Homo sapiens: one gene and its partner. The protein of the gene in region 2 purifies or fractionates together with the protein of the main gene of each other region. This does not show direct contact. Each region holds a gene or a part of one and is shown on either strand. Other genes may lie near its edges. The genes, in order: DHX32 and SSX7.

The links.
Region 1: the proteins of SSX7 (region 2) and DHX32 purify together in Homo sapiens (affinity purification with mass spectrometry; one large-scale study listed by BioGRID and IntAct). This does not show direct contact.

The regions. Positions count from the first base shown.
Region 1 is NC_000010.11:125,839,793-125,843,615, reverse strand, and holds part of DHX32 (putative pre-mRNA-splicing factor ATP-dependent RNA helicase DHX32), read left to right. Parts: intron 1-813; exon of another isoform or gene 814-1,681; coding exon 1,682-1,873; exon of another isoform or gene 1,874-2,256; coding exon of another isoform or gene 2,257-2,361; intron 2,362-2,619; coding exon 2,620-2,769; intron 2,770-3,823. Other genes in the region: BCCIP (BRCA2 and CDKN1A-interacting protein), read right to left, coding at 2,286-2,361.
Region 2 is NC_000023.11:52,648,278-52,652,100, forward strand, and holds part of SSX7 (protein SSX7), read right to left. Parts: intron 2,126-3,823; coding exon 2,076-2,125; intron 120-2,075; coding exon 1-119.

The DNA of each region.
Region 1 (3,823 bases), on a different chromosome or scaffold from region 2:
TTTTGAGACGGAGTCTCGCTCTGTCGCCCAGGCTGGAGTGCAGTGGTGCCATCTCGGCTCACTACAAGCTCCACTTCCTGGGTTCACGCCATTCTCCTGCCTCAACCTCCCGAGTAGCTGGGACCACAGGCGCCTGCCACCACGCCCGGCTAATTTTTTGTATTTTTTTAGTTGAGACGGGGTTTCACCGTGTTAGCCAGGATGGTCTCAATCTCCTGACCTGGTGATCCTCCCGCCTCGGCCTCCCAAAGTGAGGTTTTTGAGCTACTCAGTTTGCCTGAAATTTAGACATAGAGCTTAATGATCAAAGTTTAGACAGCACATAAGAAAATTTTTACCATATGTTACTTTGAACTCCCAGGAGCAGACAGGTTCAAGCGCTTCTTAGGGCCCCAGAGTCTTCAGCCCCTGCCCACCTTGCACTTACTGGAACTAAAACAAAACCAACCTAGTGGCTCATAAATCCTGCAGTTTTGGGGTATAACAATACAGCAGCTTTCTATTATGGGATTTGCTTCATTGTGTGACCTGTATTGCTATACCAGGAACCAGAAGGGTGGACAAAACACATGTATTTATTTAATAAATATTAGGTTGGTGCAAAAATAATTGTGGTTTTTGCCATTGAAAGTAATGGCAAAAACCGCAATTACTTTTGCACCAATCTATATATAGCCTTATTCCACAAAGAGAATATATTTCTTTAAATAAATGGATTTTTAAAAACTTTGGTAAAGACTGAGCATATATAATACCACATCATTATCGATGTTACATAAACTTAAAAGAAATAAAGAGATGGAGAGAATCAGCTTGCTATCTTTATTTCTTTATTTGCACTGGGAAATAACATCTTTGTCTACTATTTCTAGCATCTGAGATCCAGGTCAGTTGTGATTAATTTTTCTCTGTATTATGCAATGTATTTTCCTGCTTTTCATGCCTCTCTACTGGATGCTAGACATTGTACATTTTACCTTCTTGGGCACTGAATATTTTTGTAGTCCCAGAGGTACTTTTGAGCTTTGTCCTAGGATGCAGTGTGATCCTTTCAGGTCCTGCTGTATAGCTGTGTCAGGTGGCAGTGCCCATCTAGGGTTTCTCACTTGTGTTTTCTACCCAGTGCCCCATAAATCATGAGGTTTTCCAGCTAGGGTGGTGGGAACAGGCCCTACCCTAGGTCCTGTGTCAGCACCACTGTTCCTTCTAATCTTCTCACATGGCTCTTTCTCTGGCCTGAGGTGGTTCCTTACACACATGCGCTGATCAGTAGGGCTGTGCTGCCTAGTTGAGGGAGCTCCCTCTGGCCCCCGACTTAGATCTGTGTGTCTCTCTCCAGTACTGTGACCGCGAGTTCCGGCCACCTTAGTCTCCCTGGATCCCTGGCATTGTTTTCCTACTGCAGGGAGGCTGGCAGGCTCCACCTGGGTTCCCCCCGCATGCACACTGCAGCTGGGACCCTCCTCGGAGCATGAGCTGGACAATCACAGGGCTCCCCTCCTGAGTTTGCCCTCTCAAGAATCACTATCCTTCACTCCCTGGTATTTGGTGGCTTGCAAACCGTTGTTTCACATATTTTGTCCATTGTTTGCTTGTTTCATGCAGGAGGGAAAAGTCCAGTACCTGTTTCTCCATCTTAGCCATATGAGACTCTTAAATTATTATTTTTTTCCTTTCCTAGCACCAGAAAGTTTGATGCAGGCATTGGAAGACTTAGATTATCTGGCAGCACTGGATAATGATGGAAATCTTTCTGAATTTGGAATCATCATGTCAGAGTTTCCTCTTGATCCACAACTCTCGAAGTCTATCTTAGCGTCCTGTGAATTTGACTGTGTAGATGAAGTGCTAACAATCGCAGCCATGGTAACAGGTATCCTTAATGACTATTCCTTTTCTTTTTTTGCAAATCTGCACTAGGTATAGATTTAGATCGGATCCATTTGAAATTATATTTTGAGGAGCACAGAGCAGAGATAGTGATCAACTCATTTAACCTTTTGAAATGATAGTGAGGTATTTTAATAGGTTAGAAAAGGAAAATTTTCTTAATATGAAAAATTATCTTAAGAAAACTAACTCAAAGTTCAGCAAATTTATACATCAGATGTATGAAAACATACTAGATTTCTTTTGCTGAAATAATCAGTGCAGATGAAGAAAATGTGTCACTAGAGGTGTTTTTCCCCAAATAATGTTGTGTGCCTGTTTTTTATTTCCTATTGGCTTCATTCATCCTGGCTTGTATGTTTTAATTTATTCTAATACTGGGGGAACAGACCAACCATTGTGCTGTATCGGAACTGGTTCCAATCCTCTTCTTGTGTCTGGACCTCCAAGCACCTCAGGTTTTCCCTGCTCCTGCCGGAATAGAAGCAGGATATTAACCATATTCAGTTGACCTTAGAAAAGCAAACACACACACACAAAAGGAGAGGGAGAATTAGGATGACTCACTCTAAATTTCTGGGATTTCTAAGTAAACAAGAATAACATATTTATTCAGAGTACCAAGACAGGAGCCATGCCACTAACAGTCGTGACCCCTCCCCTCTGCATGTTAGGCTAAGATAAAATGTCTTCATTATTGCTAACCATGTGACCTTTTTCATTTTGAAGCTCCAAATTGCTTTTCACATGTGCCACATGGAGCTGAAGAGGCTGCCTTGACTTGTTGGAAGACATTTTTACATCCCGAAGGAGATCACTTTACCCTCATCAGCATTTACAAGGCTTACCAAGACACAACTCTGAATTCTAGCAGTGAGTGTAAGTGAATGCTCAGAAACTACCTATTAATTCCACCTTCCTTTCCCTAGATAAGTCTGAGTCCTTATTAGTTATTCATCAAACATTCTTCGCCAGCCCTACTGGCCACTTGAATGCAATGGCACTTGAGGCCCTAAACGCACCCACAGGCATCTGCAGAGTGGGAGATGCTCAGTCCCCCTGCTCCCACGGAGCTCTGGTGTGCCACCATGGCGGGCCTGTACTTCCAGAGCTCCAGGACTCCACTCAGCCAGCCTTCAGAGCAAGCTTGCTTGGGGCATGGTGACGGGGGACACAGACTCGTACATGGGTCTTTGGAGGAAGACAAGAACAGCCACCTCTACGTGCCCACTGTCAGAGTTGTGCTGTGCACCTTCCGTATCCTGGCACATTCACCACGTGCATGCAGAGAGGCTGCAGAGCTCCAGATACTAGTGCAGAATAGGTAGGCTGGGGTGCTGAGGGGAGGCTGCAGAGTTGCTGACGGAGCTTGATAGAGGAGAGCAGAGGGTGTCCAGAGAAGAGAATGGCGCATGTCAAAGCAAAGCCACAAAGTCCTTTGTATGCCTGAAGGGCAGTGGGTAGCTTACCTGTCACAGGAAGGTACTCAGAAGTCAACTGGAAGCTGCTATGCAGACAGAAACAAGAGGAGGGGGCAAACAGGGCAAAGCAGCATAGCAGAGGCTAGAGCCACCCATAAAGGGCAGCCAGTAAGGTCCCTCCCTGACATTTTCCATGAAGCATCTTTTACCTCCTTTGTTCTGAAAGATGGTGTGAAAATATGTGAAGTAGTGTGAAAAATATGACAGCAATTTGAAAGACAGAATTGTATAAAGAACAGGGAGTTAGTGTTTCAAAGCTGAGAAGAAAAAGTTGTCAGTGGAGCCAGCAGGTACACAGGAATCTGGTGGCACCTTTTGAGGGCATGCTGAATGGGTGACACTAAGTACATGCTGTGGTTGCTCCGAGCAGCATGAGTGGACAGGACAGGGTAAATGAGGGTCTTCTGTCCATGGTGCCATGGCCATGTACATTCCCAGGTCCATCTTAAGTA
Region 2 (3,823 bases):
TTCTCAGAGGTACTTGGTTTTCCTGGAGGGCACAGGTGTTTCCCATCGTTCTGTGAGCCAGATGCTTCTGGCACTCCCTTCGAATCATTTCCTTCCTCTGCTGGCTTCTTGGGCATGATCTTTATAATGTGAAGGTCACAGATAAACAGAATCAGTGACATTTCTATAGTGCTTTAGAGCTTACAAAGCGTCTTCACATGCATTACCTTAATCAATGTTCTCAACAATGCTGGGAGAGTTACACATGCCTAAATTAGGAGAAACCTGGGAAGTTAGACGGGAAAGGAATGGCCTATGTGAATATCGTTTCCAGGGCTAGAATGCTTATCTTCACACTCTTTAAGACTGACATTCTTGCAAACAGTAAAAATCTCCATGCAATTGAGAGTTTGGTATACAAAAGATTGGAAGAAGGATAGCATTTTTAAAATTCACAAGGTCTACAAAAGGAAGAGCTTCTATGAAATACAAGGGATCTCATATAAGCTCTTAGCTGCTGGGAGAGTAAATGTAAAAACATAGAGAGGGGACAAAACACTGCTGGGAAAGATGGTGTGGGGAGATTAATACAGGGAAGGGAGAGGTAAAGAAATGGTTTGCTAAAATTAATCTAGGCAGCGAAGAAAGCAGTACCAGATCTGGCATACCACCCTACCGAGGCACCAACACTGAATGTGGAATTCAGTGAGGTGGTACCCATACCAATTCTGGTTGCATTGGGATGTGTCACTGACCAACAATCTTAAGCTACTTTTTTTTTTGTTGTTTTGTTTTGAGACAGAGTCTCACTCTGTCACCAGGCTGCAGTGCAGTGGCACGATCTCAGCTCACTGCAACATCCAACTCCTGTGTTTAAGTGACTCATGCAACAGCCTCCAGAGTATCTGGGACTGCAGGCAGGCGCTACCACGCCCCGCTAAGTTTTGTATTTTTAATAGAGATGAGGTTTTACCATGTTGGGCAGGATGGTCTTGACCTCTTGACCTAGTGATCCATCCACCTCAGCCTCCCAAAGTGCTGGGATTACAGTCGCTAGCCACCGTGCCCCGCTCTTAATCTACTTTTTATTCAGCTTCCTTGCTTATGAGATAGTGAACAATACATGTAAAATAGTCTACGGGAAAGTCCTCTCTGAGCTTGTAAACACTGTTTAAATGCAGTAATAATAACAATTAATACCTTTCATGATCCTTCCTTCAATTCGGTCTCCACACTAGCAACCCAACTCCCAGATCCCTTTACCCTCTAAACCAGAGTTGAATCTGCACTTGTGGGGTCACTCATTCAGGGGCCTCCGAGGGATCCCCTGGGCTGGGATGGGGGCTTCTGGGATGCCCCAGGTGCAGACAAGGTCCTCAAGGAGCTCACAGTAGGGAGGGGCCAACAGTCAAAACGATTCCTAAGCCATGCAAGTGGTCCCAGTAACAGAGCAGAGGCCAGCTGGTCTTTCCTATTGCGAGAATGGGTGTCTCAATGGAAGCACCAGCAGGCCCTATGGGGTGAAGCCCTAGTGAGCAACATCTGAACTTCATAAACAAATGCAAACGTGAATGAGCTTTAAATGGCTTGGAGCTCTGGATTAGACTACCACTGCCACTGTGCCCCAGGAAAATTATTTAACATATCTATACCCCAATAGCCTCATTTTATTATTATGTTGCTGATAACTACGATTCTTTACTTCCATTTCATGGACCAGGAATCTGGAGCTCAGAGAACTTAGAAGACTTGTGCCAAGTCACATGGCTTTTATATGGACGACAACCGAAGTGTGTGACTCATTATTATTTGGAGATAATAATAGAAACAAAGTCATACAGGTCTTCTTAAGGATTAAATACATTAATCCATGTGAACTGCTTAAAATAGTATCTGGCATCACTATGAAAACAAAAGATGTATTAAGGATCACAACTGTTAGTATTATTAAGCTGTTGGTGCTACATCAGGTGTTGTGATAGACATGGGGAGAAGGAGGCAGTGAGGGCATTTTTTATATTCTCCCACTCTTACCAGTGTTTGCATCCATGGAGGGACAAAGGTTCTCTGGTCCTTTAGATCTGAGAGACACTCACCTTCGGGAAGATTCTCTGGAGCCTGCAAAAAGTCATCTGAGGACGTTCAACTGAAAGAGAATATATCAGAATTTTTCTTTGTTGGTAAAGATTTCCAAACTCTAGAGACTTCTGTAGCATCAGGGTATTCTGCAGCAGAGTGTTATGAGTCCACTCATTGTTGAGGAGTTATTTCAGTTTTGCTTCTGAATTATGTTTAGTCATGGTTGATTCATTTATCTGTGGCATCAATTCAGAATTTTCCATCTCATGGTTTATCAAATGGGGACTAAACCCCATCACAGTCTCATCTTATTCCTTTACATATCTTTTATTTTTTTCCAAATAATTAAATTGATTGGTTAGGAATCTGAACTGTATCCACTCAAGATGTGCAACAACTGAAAATCATTGCACACTTCAAATGGGTGAATCTTATGGTATGTGAATTAAGCTGTTAAATGTGTGATGAACCATGGATGATTTAGTCCAGTGGCTCTGAGATATTTTCAGTATAAAGACAGTCCTTTAATGTCAAAATCTTGGCAGACACCCAAGCACTGGATTTTCAGATCTCTTACAGTGATCGTGGGAGATTTTAGAATCTGGCCTTTTTAGTTGGGGAGTAATAGGTCTATTGGAGACAGTTTGGACGTTCTGACCTTGTCTTATAATTGTGTTGTCAGAGCAGAAGAGCAAGGAAACACATATGTGACCCCTTTATATTCCCAAAACGTACAAAGATCTCTACCGAAGAACCTGTCTTTTTTTCACCCTATGTTATCTCTGCTCTCTGGCAAGTGGGAAAGCTCTCTCTGTGTGTTGGATGAGGGATCACTCTTTCAAACTCTCTTCCAAGCTCATCACGGAGAATCAGGGTTCTTTGGGAATGAAAAGACTATTTGGCTCTGATAAAATACAGAGAAACAGCGATCTTTATTACATAATGTGTTCATCATCCTCACTCCTAAGATACCTATCCAATACCTACATGCTGTTAATGAGACAAACTCTGGAAGTTTTTGGCGAATCTACAGTTGTAACATTTTCTTTCTTCTTTTTTTCTCTTGTAACATTTTTTTAGCAGTCCTTTGATTCATTAATGGTGCTTAGGAAGAACAACATGTCATCTAAAAAAGAAATATTTCAAACACACAGAAAAGTATGAGGAATAATATTGAGTCCAGTCGGATCTCAACATTACCCCACAGCTATGCTAGGTTTGATTTATTTATTCACAATATTAGAAAAACTACAAACAGGCCGGGCATGGTAGCTCACACTTGTAATCCCAGCACTTTGGGAGGCTGAGGCAGGTGGATCACCTGAGGTCAGGAAGTTTGAGACCAGCCTGGTCAACATGGTAAAACCCCGTCTCTACCAAAAATAAAAAATGAGCTGGGTGTGGGGGCGGGCACCCGTAACCCCAGCTACTCCGGAGGCTGAGGCAGGAGAATCACTTGAACCCAGGAGGTGAAAGTTGGAGTGAGCTGAGATTGCCTTATTGCACTCTACCCTGGCCGAGAAGAGTGAAACTCCATCTCAAAAACAAAAACAAACAAAACACACTATCAACAAGTCACAGCTGAAGCTGTCTGTGCAGCACTCAGCAATCCCTGCCCGCCCTCCCTCCTCCACTTACAGCCAGTCACCTCAATTTGATGGCTTTTTATTCACATTCATGTTTGTATACATTTACCATTTACTTATTATCTATAAAAATATATATTCTTGTTTTTCGTGTTTTAAAATTTTATATGAATGGCCTC